2 linked regions of the Homo sapiens genome follow. The protein of the gene in region 1 interacts with the protein of each later gene in a biochemical or structural test. Each region holds a gene or a part of one and is shown on either strand. Other genes may lie near its edges.

Region 1 (6,969 bases):
GGAGGAAGCAGACGTAGGGCTGGAGGCTCTGAGCACTTTCCCCCTACAGCAGTCTCCCCGCTCCCTCCCACAAGAGGCAGGCACCCTATAGGGAGGCTGGCATATCTGGAAGGAGGTTTTGGACAACTGGTGGACGGGACTCCTGGGTGTGTGGACACACTCCTAGCAGCCATCCTTTGGGGGCTGAGAAAGAATGGCCCAGGCCATTTCTCAGGGAGGAAAACGACTTTTTCAGAGCCTCCTTGTGGGGTGTGTAGGGATGTGCCTGGTCAACTTCATGTGGTAGTGTGTGGCAGTGGGCAGGAGGGGGAGCAGCCAGGATGTCAGGACTACGCGTCCCTCCTGCCTGACCTTCCTGGTTATAATTTAACTCTAGCCCGGGATGGGGCTGGTGAGTGGGCAGTGGCACTCCTCCCCCTGGGTAGGCAGTGCTTCATCTCTCCAGATGGCCAGCTGGGGCTCCTGGCCAGGTCAGGGAGCAGGGAACCTGCTCTCTGCTCCCCTAACTCATGCAGCAACAGGTTCTGGGTCTAGAGAAGGCAAGTGACAGTCTTGGGCTCTCAGCAGATGCCACGGGCCTGGACCTGGCAACTGCTGACCCTGGCACCCATGTCGAAGGCTGACACAGCCCGTGGGGCTTGCACTGCAAGCTGGGCAGCATAGGCCCGGGCTCTGGGTTAGGAAAAGTAGAGGCTGCGGTGGAGTGGGGGATGCTTGGCGCCTGAGGGAGGAGACTAGCCCCCACTGCAGTTTTCCAGAGGCCACAGTGTGGGACCCCACATGAGACACTCCCTCTCTGCCCCACCATCGCCCTGTTTCTGGGAAGAGTCTTGCCCTTGTCCTAAATCACAGCTTTTCCTGGCAGCAAGGGACAGGCGGCATCCTGGTGCATTTAGTAAACATTGGAAACTGAGTTGGGAAGGGTAGGGGAGGGTGGCAGAGGACAAAGTGAGGACCATCCTTGGCTCATAGAATTCAGAGAAACCTCAGGCATCTCTCACGCAGCCTGAGCAAAAATGTCCTCTGCAGGATCCCAGCTGGGGCAGACCTAGGAGAATCCTCCTCAAGCCACTCTCCACTGTGAGGAAGCCAAGGGTCTAGAAGGTTTTCTGTACTTTGAGCTGGAATGTGCATTTTGGTGACTCCCTCTTGCCTGGTCTGGCCTCAGGAGGCCTCAAGTCTGTGCTCCTCAAAGGCAAAGTCACAAAGATTCTGTGGTTCTCTGCCTAACACCTGGACAGCACTTAGGGATGATGAATGGCTGGATGGAGGGAAGGACGGGGGCATCTTTGAGAATAAGTCCTTTGGCAAGCCCCTGTTCCTGTGTGGCCCCAGGTGCAGGGTGTACTCCTGAAGATGTACACCCTGGCATGCCTTACTTCAAGAAGAGGGTTTGCTGGCACAGAGCGATGGAGTCATAGCACTGGGGGGTGTGGAGAGGGGAGGAGGGTGGGAAGGCACCTACATGGAGAAGTTGGTGATGAAGGCTTTCTTGGGCAGCTCCATCTGGAAGGTGGCCTCCTGCACAGTATTGGCCCTATTGACCACTCGGCTGGTGACGACCGTGTGGGCAAATCGGGATGAGACCCTGGAGTCCACGGTGAGGCTGTAGATGTCGATGCCATTCTGGACCAGCAAAGAAGAAGGGGGTTGCAGGGTTTCAATGCCACCTCAGCTCGGGGTGACGCTCTTCAAGAGTTGGCCCTGACTCTGGCTCTAGACCAAACCCTGGCTCCCAATCTGACTGAGCCACTGACCAGGCCTCAGGCTGAACCCAGTGAGGCATCTCATATGTGAACATTTGTCTCAGGTAAGAGATAGCAGTGTGCTTCATTCCCCACCCTACAGCACCACAGGGCAGGGGCCACGTCCTTCTTGATCTATAGGGGCCCAGAGCACCCCTTGGAGAAGAACAAGCATGCAGGGGGTGGAGCTGGTGAAGCCAGGGCCAGTGTCTGGGAGGGGCATCACACTCAGCCTTTGGGCAGGGGTGAGAGACCTGGTGGGGTCAGGGAGCTTTGCATGCTGGCTTAGCTTTGCCCAGAAAAAGGGCAGTGACCAGGTCCTTTGATTTCTGGAGACTTTGGCCTCTGTGGCAACAGGGAAGCTCCCACCAGTCTCCTAGAAGGAAGCCCTCAGAGCTGGGAGAATTCGGAGGTAGACTAGAGTCTGGTCTCTGAGAGTTGGGAATCTTCCTCTCTGCTCCGCAGTGGACCCTCCCCAACTCATCCCCACTTCCGCAGGGCACTCCCCTAGCAGGTGCCATTTGCCTTGAGGTCTGTGTCCCCCGAGGAGGGGCACACGGGCACCTCTTACCTGCTTGTGTGTGACATGCTCATGCGCACTGCACCAACTCTGCTCGGCTGCATGCGGCTGCCTGAATGCAGTTTGGCACAGAGGTGCCAAGTGGCTTGTTTATGTGCTTGGGTATTTGCTCTGCGACAAGCACTGTCCTAAGCACTTCATAGATACAATGGGTTTGGTTTTCACAACAAGCACTGTCCTAAGCACTTTATAGATACAATGGGTTTGGTTTTCACAACCGCCACCCTCTGAATAGGTTCTAGTATTACCCTGTTTTACAGATGAGGAAATTGAGACATAGTCAGCATAAATCATTCTCCTGAGGTCACTTACTAAAAGGCGGTAGAGCCAGGCTTGTAAAACTGTATTTCCTCATTTGGAAAATGGAAATGATTGGATCATCCCCTCTATTAGGTGGGAGAATACCAGTAAGGCCCTTGGGGTAGTGCCTGGCGGGAGGTCTGCACCATTTTTTTGCACACACAGGGATGCACACGCACTTGTGCTGACACGCTGGCACATGCGGAGGCTCTTCCCCACTTCCCAGGCGTTCTCTCATCCCCCAGCTCACGCCACACCCATGGACACTGGCTACCTTTTCGGCAGTAGTAGTCTGGTGGATGGCCAGCAGTGAAAGCAGGACGAGAACTTTGCTGCAGGTACGGACAGGCCTTGGGGGCTTCATCGTGGCTCCAGTGTCTGCCAGGAGGCTTCTGAACTCGACAGCAAGTGGGGAATGGATTAGTAACTTGTTTGCTGCCCCACCCACATGGGGGCAGGTTCTGGGAAATTGGGATCTACAAGCCAAAAACCACAGTGACCTCAGATAAGCAAATGACGAACGTCCCATGGACCTTGGCTGGGGGCAGGAATGTATACCAAAGAAAGGTAGGCTCAGTTTGGAGTGGGGGTACATGCCCCTTCTGAAAAGTGCGAAACCTTCACCAGGACCCTTCACACCAGGCATTCCACCAAGCTCCACAGGGCTGGGAGGGAATTGACAGTGAAGATGTCAGTCTGCTCTCCCTAAGTCCAGCCCGGGGAGAAACAGCGGGGGATGGTGGGGAAGACTAGGGCTACAGGGCTACCCTAGCGGCTTCCCGGAAGAAGGGGGCTTGGCCACCAGGTAAGTGTGTCTGGCTGATGGGAGGGCCCAAAGGCATGGAGTGACTCTGGGAGGTGTCTGTGTGGGGCAGATCTAGAGTCAGGATAGATACGCCGTATTTCTGAAGTGAGAGGTGCTGGGCACGGGGCGCCTCCTTCTCTCTCCTGGGGTCCCAGGTTGCTGTTTGGGTGCCATTAATCTAGCCAGGGCTTTAGGTTCAACCCCAGCAAGGCCCCCAAAACAAGAATGGCAATACAACTGAGTCATAAACCTGCCACATCCTGTGGCACAGAGGTCTCCATGCGGGGAGTTTATTGACAGAAGAGCATGGAACAGAAGACAGACCTGACAGTGCCAGCAGCTCCTGAGGGGTGACTGGGGAGTCATTTGGTGGAGCAGAGGGAGCCCAGGAATCGCTGGTTGAGAGAGGGCAGAATGCTGTTGTCATGAGCAGTGTGATGCTGCCACAGCCCAGACCCAGGGGAGCGCTGCCCAAAGGCCTGGGGTGGGTCCCGGCCTTGCTAAAGTTGAAGCGCTCTGCTCCTTGTAAAGTGGGATCGAGTGAGTACATATTATGCGCTCTGGGCACCGCTGGGGCTCGTGTTCCCTGGTGGCTCTGGGGAAGCCAGCTCCTGAGTCTGTGGCCACAGATGGGTAAAGATGAGTCATAAAAGTGTGGCCAGATGCCAAGTCCTGGATCAGGGAAGGACGGCGGCTCCGTGACACCAGCCCTGAGGGGGCCAGCTGCCTTGGGAACCTATCGGGGGCCTTGGGGCAGCCAGTGGCTTCCAGAGGCTGGGGAGGGTTTCTCCACCAGTCCTGTCTCCATTAGAGGTGGCGGCAGGCCTGGGGCAAAGGTGCCATAGACTGGAGCTATTTCTACAGCTGCAAGGAAGACGTTCCCCTTCCTTAGCATGACTGGCCAGAAGCCTCATCTCTGCGCACGTCTCCACTGCTCACCCTTTTGGCTCTGGATACGATTGGGATTACACAGGGGAACACGCTCCTTTCAGTGTCTGGGGGAAGAGTCTCCCCATGGAGTCCAGCAAGTAGGACTGGGCCCTTCCTCACAGCAGGGCTGCTCCCTTGGGGCAGAGAGCACAGGCCCAGCCCGGACTCAGGGCTATATAAGGTGGCCAGGCTGGCCGGGACTGTGGGAAACGTTCTGGGCAGCCAGAACCTCCTGGGACAGGAAGGCATCCCCAGCAGGCATCAGCCCCGAGCCAGGCACCACAAGCCCAGGCTCTGCCAGTCCAGCTCCGAAAAGAGCCACTGTCAGCCTGTCCATGGTCATGGTCTTGCCATCACAACGGGACAGGCCTCTATGGGTCTTTTGAACCTGGCACTTCCAGGCACACAGGGGACAGAGGACTGGAGAGAGAAGGGTCATGCAGGCTGAGAATCTGGTGTTCCATGCCCCAGACAGCATGGTTGGAGCAGAATGTGGGAGTCTTACCCCTGCTGTTTGGAAGAGACGGTAGCTCAGGAAACTGACTGCCAGAGAGGAATCTCAATCTGGCTCTGACTTGGAGGGGACAAAAGCCGGGAGGAGGCAGTGTGAACAAAAGTGTAGGGAGGGAGAGGGGTTTTGAGGTCCCTAGTGCAGTGCAGGGAGAGGGGTTTTGAGGTCCCTAGTGCAGTGCAGGGAGAGGGGTTTTGAGGTCCCTAGTGCAGTGCAGGGAGAGGGGTTTTTGAGGTCCCTAGGTGCTGCAGAGCCTGCAGGTCCTCAGAGGCTTCTCAGCAGCTTCTGTGGAAGGCAGGAGGAGAGGTGGTCCCTGAGACCCCACCCACTTCACTCTGAGCAGTGTCATCATGGCCTGCTTTATGGAATAGACTCCAGCTCAACTCCCCTGTAGTATAAAAGGGGAAACTGAGGCTCAGAAAAGTCTGAAGTCACAGGTCAGCACTGAGTCTCCATGTCCAAGGCAGCATGTGGCAGTGCCCATAATAGCACCTGTGCTATCCCCTGGGATCCTCTTAAACGGACATGTTCCATGTTCCCACCCTGTCCTCCCTCTCAATAGTGGCCATAGCCAGGGACCAACCAACACCTTCTGATTGCTGGGGCCACGTGGGCATCCTCTTTATTGGTGCTTCCAAGGTGCTGGTGCAGAGCCCTTGGCTGAAGGGCCTGGACTGTGGGGGAGGGTGGCAGCCCCAGAGACAGCAGGGGAGAGGAAGCGTTCTGGCATAAAAAAGAGTTCCTGGGAAAGGCTCCTGTTTCCGAGCATTCGGGCAGCAAGGGGAGTGGCGCACACTTCTCAGCCGAAGACACTCTTGGTGGGTCCGGCTTTGGGCTTCTCAAAGACAGTCTCGGTACCTGTGCGGGTGCGGCTGAACACCGACGGGGCGGCCGAGCCAGCTTGCTCTGTGGGAGGAGGTAAAGTCAGGGGCCAGCCTAGCTTCCTGGGAGGGAAGATCCCTTACGATGGGAGCACCTTTCTTGAACCCAGGAATACTGGATTCTCAGAAAAGGATCCTTGACCACCTCCCCCCACCACTGACACACACCTGCACCCCCATCCCCAGCCCCAGATGGCATGAGGACACTCACCACACTCTCGCATGACCTGGTAGGTCTTGGACTTGATTTCCTGGTTCTTGGTCAGGTTTCCTCGGGCCCCCTTCAGGTCCTCGTCCTTCACAGGGGGGCGCTTCTTCTTGATAGGGGCTTCCTGAGCACCAGCCTTGGAGATCCAAGAGCCTCATCTTACTACCTGAAGCCTCGGTAGAAAGGCACACCTACCTCTGTGCCTTGGCCAAGACCCCTCTTCTCTGCTCATTAAACCCAAGCCTATTCAAGGCTCTACTCCTCTTCCAGAGAAAGCCTTCCCAACTATACTCCACCTGCTGCAGGTCTCCCAGCTGTCTTGGTCTGACTTGCCCATGTGCCTTTCCCCTATAGCCTGGGAGCTCTTGGGAGCAGTGGCTGCTGCAGCCTCACACTGGCGTGTCTGGCTACCTGGTCAAGCTCAGGACTGGGCACAGTGGGGAACAGCGAAGGGGACTAGCTCTGAGGTTGGGCAATACTAGGGAATTTGGTTAGTTCCAAAACCTGTTCACTGGGTGGCAAGCGGTTCCTCAAGGATTGCCCCCTTCCAGAAAAGCGCCACTATTTACTTTGTGTCTTTGGGGCTGGAAATGGGGTAGAAGGGCCAGATGCCCACAGAATTACAGTCCAAAATGGCCACCCACCCACAGAGCAGGCAGCAAGGACAGTCCTCTCTCTTGGCAGGCTGGTCTGTCCCTCCAGGGTGGGGGACACCCAGGCTCGGTGTTTACCCTACCCCTCAACCCCAGGCGCCTGTGAGTCTGAGACCTGCCTGTGCTTGGGTGCAGGTGCAGGTATTTCCTCGCTCAGCCTGGGCCAGGCTCCTCAGAGCAACACACTATACCCCTGTACAGCGATGCATCCAGCTGTGTCCCTCCAGCCTCATGTGCACACACATACAGCTTCATGCATATACCATACACAGAGACAGACAGACCTATGTGTGTGGCCACACACAGAGTGCATGGCTGCCGGGCCCATAGCTACAAATGCACAAAGCTCTACACAC
Region 2 (7,327 bases), on another chromosome or scaffold:
AATTAGCCAGGTGTGGTGGCGGGCACCTCAGCTACTCGGGAGGCTGAGGCAGGAGGATCACTTGAACCCAGGAGGCGGAAGTTGCAGTGAGCTGAGATCATGCCACTGCACTCCAGCCTGGGCAAAAGAGTGAGACTCCGTCTCAAAAACAACAACAACAACAAACAAAAACAGGGCAGGGTGTCTTGAGAAGTTAGGGGAAAGGCATAGGCATATAGTAGTTAGGGCAGGGTGCAAGGAAGGTGTAGGAGGCAATGTAAACGTCCCTGTCCTCAGGCATCCTCTACCCCTTCTCTTAGCAGCCCAGGATGGTGACAAGTTGCTGGAAGGTGACGAGTGTGCACCCCACTCCCAGCCATGGCAAGTGGCTCTCTACGAGCGTGGACGCTTTAACTGTGGCGCTTCCCTCATCTCCCCACACTGGGTGCTGTCTGCGGCCCACTGCCAAAGCCGGTATGAAGGCAGGGGCTCAGGGTCCTGAGGGAGCCTGGTTCGGGGGGAAGAGCTCCTAGATTTGGGGGAAGACGGAGGCAGACGCCAGAACTCCTGGGTTCTGAAAGACGAGGAGGCCGGATGTCAAGCCCCTGGGTTAGGAAGGAGTGTGTGTTTCAAAGCCTTCGATCTCTGAAGGAGGAAGGAGAAGACTAGTTCCAGCTTTTGAGCCTCAGTTCTAGGGATGTGAGAATCCTGGATTCGGGGACAGACCAGGAGGGGGCTGGGAGTAGTTGGAGGGGATCGAGTTCTAGGAGTGTGCCTGACTTCAGACTCGTTGGTCCTTGAGGAGCAGGGGCTGGAACCATTGGCTTCAGGGTCTTGGGAAAAGGTAATGGGATGTCGAGATTTCTAAAGGGTCGGGAGACCTCGGGTTGCCCACTCTTTGATCTTTCTGTCCTCTACTTGCGGGTAACCACTGGCCCGCACTCCACTGGCGGGAAAACCACTCGCCCGCACAGCTTCATGAGAGTGCGCCTGGGAGAGCACAACCTGCGCAAGCGCGATGGCCCAGAGCAACTACGGACCACGTCTCGGGTCATTCCACACCCGCGCTACGAAGCGCGCAGCCACCGCAACGACATCATGTTGCTGCGCCTAGTCCAGCCCGCACGCCTGAACCCCCAGGTGCGCCCCGCGGTGCTACCCACGCGTTGCCCCCACCCGGGGGAGGCCTGTGTGGTGTCTGGCTGGGGCCTGGTGTCCCACAACGAGCCTGGGACCGCTGGGAGCCCCCGGTCACAAGGTGCGTGAAAGGATGGAGCTGGATGCGAGGCCTCAAGGAATCCTATGCTCCAGGGCTCTTGGGCGGAGGGGACAAGGGCCGGAATTTATGGATCTGCTCCAAGTCCACTGTCTTCCCCAGTGAGTCTCCCAGATACGTTGCATTGTGCCAACATCAGCATTATCTCGGACACATCTTGTGACAAGAGCTACCCAGGGCGCCTGACAAACACCATGGTGTGTGCAGGCGCGGAGGGCAGAGGCGCAGAATCCTGTGAGGTCAGAGCCTAGAGGGGCCATCAGGCGGAAGAAGAGGGATGGGGACAGGTGTGGGAGTCCGGATGGGGTTGGATTTTCTTTGCTTTGGGCCAGAGAAGATGCTAGGGTTAGGCTTGGAGATGGAGTAGGAAGAGAAGTTAGAATAGGGGTGAGGTTGGAGTTGGGGTTATAGGTGGGGATTGCGTTGTTTGAGGTGGATAATGTGATAGTTAGTTTGAGATGGCATGGGTTGGGGTTGAGAATGGGAATGGTTTGGTTTGATTCTGGGTGGGAAATACGTCAGGGTTGAATTGGGATGAGGTAGATTTTGTTTGGAATGCAGAAGACATGAAGATTGAGATTGGATTTTGAGATGGGCATGGGTTTGATTTGATTTTGAATGGTGAGGATGTGGGCTGAGTTGGATTTAACTTAGTACAGTTGCACTGGAGTTGCATGGGGGTGAGATTGGATATAGGTTGGGTGAGTTGTATTGAGCTGTGTTGAATTGGGGTTGGGGTTGGGGTTGGGTTGGCTCTGTTTGGGATAAACTGGGCTGTATTGAGTTGAGTTGGGTTGGGGTTCCCTGGGATGGGGATGGATTGGGTTTGGGGTGAGATTGCAAATGGTGATTAGGATGAGGATGAATCCAGGAGGTTTCACTCAACCTGAGACCCCCTCTTTTCCCCACAGGGTGACTCTGGGGGACCCCTGGTCTGTGGGGGCATCCTGCAGGGCATTGTGTCCTGGGGTGACGTCCCTTGTGACAACACCACCAAGCCTGGTGTCTATACCAAAGTCTGCCACTACTTGGAGTGGATCAGGGAAACCATGAAGAGGAACTGACTATTCTAGCCTATCTCCTGTGCCCCTGACTGAGCAGAAGCCCCCACAGCTGGCCAGCAGCCCCGCCTGACATGGAACAGAACGGAGCCATCCCCCAAGACCCTGTCCAAGGCCCAGATGTTAGCCAAGGACTTGTCCCACCTGAGGACAAAGCTGGCGCTCAAGGTCACCTGTTTAATGCCAAGATAACAAAGCGCTGATCCAAGTTGCTCTGTAGGAATTTCTGTGACTTTTTTCTGGGGTCAAAGAGAAACCCCGAGACACTGTACACTGTTCCTTTTCACCCACCACCCCGATCCCTAGGTGAGGAGAAGCGGCTTGAAGCAGGGCTCCATTCATTCAACACACATGACCACCCGTGTGATCTTGAACAAGAGGCCCAATCTCACTTCGCCTTGGTTTCCTTATCTGTAAAATGAGACCATCTTATTGCTGACTTCAAAGGGCTGTTGTGAGGATTAAATGAGATGATTCGTCTGAACTGATTAAAATCGTGTCTGGCACTGAGTAAATACCCTCTATCTCTGGATCCCAGTTAAAGGACCTAACAGACACTAGATTACCAAGAATGGCTTTTTCTTTAAGGTTTAGTTCTGGGCCGGGCATGGTGGCTCACACCTGTAATCCCAGCACTTTGGGAGGCCAAGGCGGGCGGCTCACTTGAGGTCAGGAGTGCAAGACCAGCCTGGCCAACATGGTGAAACCCCATCTCTACTAAAAATACTAAAAAAATTTAGCCGGGCGTGGTGGCACACGACTGTAATCCTAGCTACTTGGGAGGGTGATGTGGGAGGATCGCTTGAACTTAGGAGGCAGGAGTTGCAGTGAGCCGAGATCGCGCCACTGCACTCCAGCCTGGTGACAGAGCAAGACTCCATCTCAGAAAAAAAAAAAAAAAAAAAAAGATTTAGTTCTGGGCTTCCTGGTAGCCATGGCAAAAAGGCAAATACTGTCCTTTCCTTAGCCAGGTCCCTGATATACAGCAGAGGCTGGAACTCTGAGCTGCTTTGATTTTACCAAAAAGCCAAGACAACCTGTTGGAAGCCTATGGGTTTACCATTGAGGCTGCAGGAATCTAGTTCCTAATTATCTTCAGAGACCACAAAATGTGATGTTCAAGGTCGCTGAATGTTGAAGTACATGAACCTGGCTCGTGAGACCTAAATATTGTACTGGTGGTGGGGGGGAAGGGTCATTGGAATCTGTGGTTAGCCTGATCTTGACCTGGGAGGGAAGGTTGTCCAGATCTCTGGGACTTTGGAGGACAGGACGTTGAGCACCCATAACTGGGAGCAAGAAGTGGGAGGCTCATTGAGACCCCAGCATTGTTTGGGAGGGACACTGGATTTTGTAATGCTAAAGAACTTACCCTGGGAGACCCCTGAAACTTCACATTCCTGGATCTGGAGGCACTAGGAATGTGGTGATGTGTACCCCAAAATTTTATTATGAAAGGAACAGTAGCTTTGGGGACCTAGGTCCTGGGTCTGGGAGTGCAAGAACCAGGGCATTCTGAAGGCCAAGGCTTATATTTCAGGGGGAACTGGCAGCTGAGATGCTAGTATCTTGGCTCCGAGTGGTGCAGGGAATCAGAGCCCTAACTGCTGGTGTTTGAGGGCACCAGGTCTGGGGGTGCAGGGCCTTAATTGAGACTGAGGTATATGGGGCTTTGTACCAGGGGTCACTGATTCCTCCGTCTTCCTGTTTCTGCTTCCCCTCAGTCCCCCCTTGCCTCACTGGCTGCTCCCCAGAGCAAAGCCCCAGAGCCACAGGCCCTGCCCCACCTGGCTTCAACCCCAGGAATGCGTCCAGCGTGATCCAGGGCCTGCAGAACAGGTGCTGGTTCTCCCTCCCCGTCTACAGCTCTGGGGATCGGAGGGGGGGGGGGCAATTGTCCAGCCCCCAGGCAACAGGGGAAGGGCCTTGGCCAACATCTGGGTGCCAGCAGGGCAGGGGTGGGGCTCTGAGGGGATAAGGGCTTTTAAAAGCCTCCCCAGGGAGGTTCCCCAGTTCCTCCACCTGCTGGCCCCTGGACACCTCTGTCACCATGTGGTTCCTGGTTCTGTGCCTCGCCCTGTCCCTGGGGGGGACTGGTGAGACAGTGGGGGGATGTGGGAGGGGGAACGGGCCCTGATTCTCTTGCTGGCCTCACATCCCCCCCCGATAAGACCTTCCCCTCCAACACCCCACCCTCATCCCTCTGGCCCACAGTCTATCCTAGTCCGGGGTGCCCCGGCTCTTATCTATCTTGCGCGGCCCCACCCTAAACTTCCACCCCCGCTCCTCCATGTTGTCATAGTGCTCACTCCCACACCAGATTCCTGCTCCTCCCAGGAAGCCTCAGTACTTTCTCCTCTTCCCTAGCCAACGCCCTGTCCCACCGCTTTACCAAAGGGGCAGATTCTGGGCCATCTCTGTCTCTCTCTGGAGGACCCCAACCCTCCCATGGGCTTCCCCCACCCCACAGGACTCTGATCATCCCCTCCTGCCCCCTAGTTCCCTGCGGCCACCTATTTGGCTCCTGAGTCTACAAATCCCACCACACTCCAGTGACTTTTTCCATCCAGCTGTCCGCTCTCAACTGTGTCCTCCAGACCCTGACATCTGGTCTCCCCAGTCCTTCCAGGGTCCCCCAAATTTCACCAGAAAACCCTGCTTCCCAAACTGGCATGTGGGATCCCCCATCTGGTATGGGGGGGGGTCTGCAAATGTCCCTTCCCACCCAGCACCCCCAGCTCTCCCAGGAAAAACACCACACCCTCCCACCACATGCTCCTTTCCTTGGGGAAGTTCCATCCCGCCCCAGGCCCCAGCCCTTCTCTGCCTGAATTGTTCCTACACAGCTCTGGTTTTCTGGAACCCCACCCCAAGGATCCTGAATGCCTTCTCAGCCAGCGCTTCTGCCCTGGCCTCCCCCAAGTCAGTATGTGATTCTACAACCTCACGTCAAGTGGGTCCTGCATTGCATTCCCACAGCTGCTTGGCGCCTGTTCTCACCACTTCTCCAATCCTCTTCCTAGGATTGCCTCCAAGAGGACCCCATATCCTTCCAGTACCCTCAGACCATGAACCCCATCCCCATGAGAAACGAAGATCCCATCCTTCACCCTGTCCGAGAAGGACTGCCACTCACGCCTCCCTCCTCCTGAGCCCCGTCCCAGTCCTGACCGCAACTGTGTTCTCAGGGCCCCAACCTCCCCTCAGATTGCCATTCCTGGTTCACAGGAAGGACCCCAAAACCTCTCGGAAGCCCACCTCTAGCCTTAACCATAGCCCTTTCTTTTACCCTTTAACCAGGAAGCCCTGAAATCTAACTGTCCCAGCCAAGCTGGCCCCTTCCAACCCCAATGTAGGGACCCCAAGTCACCCCCAAACTCTTCAGTCCAGATGCTCTTCTTTACCTCTCAGACCTGGTTCCCTAAAGCTGCATCCTTTCCTGAACCTCAAAAGCCCAACCCAGGTCCTGTTTCCCTAGCCTAGGAGCCCCTTAGCCCTCCAGATTCTTCCTCAGTGAGCCTCTGATCCTGTCCCACCCTTGGCGCCTTGATCCCTGGTTTCCAGAATCCCTTTCCACTCCCCTAACCCACCACCTCCCATCCCCCAGCCCCAGACCCCAAATGACCTGACGCCCAGATGCAGTGTCTGCTCCAGACACTGTCTCCTGTCTCCTACCCTGATCCCTGGAGGCTGCTCTACTGTCAGAGCACAAAATCTCCCCACCAGGTCCAGCCACCACTCCAAAAGCCCAGGGAACAGTCCAGAGTCCCACCCCTTCCCAACACCCCTTGCCCATGTCCCCAACCTCCAGCCCTGGTCCTCTACCCGCAATGTCCCTTCAGACCCACAGCCCAGCTCCCTCTCCTAGCCTTGTCCCTGGCCTCTCCTGCCAACCCTGCCCTTCCTGACCCAGCACCGCCTCTGCAGGTGCTGCGCCCCCGATTCAGTCCCGGATTGTGGGAGGCTGGGAGTGTGAGCAGCATTCCCAGCCCTGGCAGGCGGCTCTGTACCATTTCAGCACTTTCCAGTGTGGGGGCATCCTGGTGCACCGCCAGTGGGTGCTCACAGCTGCTCATTGCATCAGCGAGTGAGTAGGGGCCTGGGGTCTGGGAGGAGGGCATCTATGCTGCCACAGGATTGACAGGCCAGTGGCATTCCCCTTGGATAACCTCAGGCAAGACTGGGGGGCTGAGGCAGAGAGGAAGGCTCTGGCGCAGGTCGCCTGGCAGGGCAGAGCTGGGCTGGACACCCCTCTCCAAGGCTGCCTGGGTCTCTTGGGATCTGGTTCTGCTTGTGTCTCTGTGTGACTGTGTTCTGGTCTCTGTCTTCCTCTCTCTCCTCTGTCTCCTTGTCTCTGCATCTCCCCTGTCTCTGTCTGTCTCTGAGTCTCTCTGCGGCATCTCTGTCACTGTGTCTCACCCTCCATCTCTCTACCCATCTCTCTCTCTCTGGGTCTCTACCTCACCGCTCCCTCATCCCTACTAAACACACACCCAGATGGACCTAAGGGAGGCCCCAGAGTAAAGGAAGGGCTTTATCCCCAACTTGTGTGCCTGGGAGGGGGCGCCTCTCCCTCTGTCCAGCTCCCCGCCCCACAGGATATCCCTCCACTCTGGAGAGACACAGGGAAGGGCTGGTTTCAGCGGGAGCTGGGTGGGGCAACTGAGGGAGGAGGAAGGAGGAGGCGGGGCGAGAAACGCGCGGGAGGGTGCTGGGAAGGGAAGGGGGCCTCGACCTTGGACTTCAGGCCAGGCCACCTGCCCCTGGGGAGCCCGCACCACAGCCCCAGCTGCAGCTGAGCCGCTCTCAGGCCTCCCCTCCTCCCTACCTGCCCCCACCCTCCCCACCTGCCCCCACCCTCCCCCAGGGCCTCCCTCCCTTTTCTCTCCCACACTCGGTCACTCCTGCTTCCTCTCTGCCTCTGTTTCTAGTTCTCACTCTGACGTCCCGCGTCCTTTTTCATTTGTCTGCTTCTCGCTCCCTTCCGTGTTCTGTTCCCTCTTCCTCCCTC

Evidence for each region. Proteins that work in one complex are often made in the same cells at the same time.
Region 2: the proteins of ITIH4 (region 1) and KLK1 form a complex in vitro, tested with the Homo sapiens proteins (one study listed by BioGRID).

The regions. Positions count from the first base shown.
Region 1 is NC_000003.12:52,827,654-52,834,622, forward strand, and holds the start of ITIH4 (inter-alpha-trypsin inhibitor heavy chain H4 isoform 1 precursor), read right to left. Parts: upstream 3,020-6,969; 5' UTR 2,990-3,019; coding exon 2,900-2,989; intron 1,627-2,899; coding exon 1,466-1,626; intron 1-1,465. Other genes in the region: STIMATE-MUSTN1 (TMEM110-MUSTN1 fusion protein), read right to left, coding at 5,671-5,777, 5,964-6,096; MUSTN1 (musculoskeletal embryonic nuclear protein 1), read right to left, coding at 5,671-5,777, 5,964-6,096. UniProt on the Homo sapiens protein: Type II acute-phase protein (APP) involved in inflammatory responses to trauma. May also play a role in liver development or regeneration.
Region 2 is NC_000019.10:50,820,788-50,828,114, reverse strand, and holds the start of KLK1 (kallikrein-1 preproprotein), read left to right. Parts: upstream 1-4,327; 5' UTR 4,328-4,366; coding exon 4,367-4,412; intron 4,413-6,243; coding exon 6,244-6,403; intron 6,404-7,327. Other genes in the region: KLK15 (kallikrein-15 isoform 4 preproprotein), read left to right, coding at 300-453, 954-1,237, 1,358-1,494, 2,167-2,319.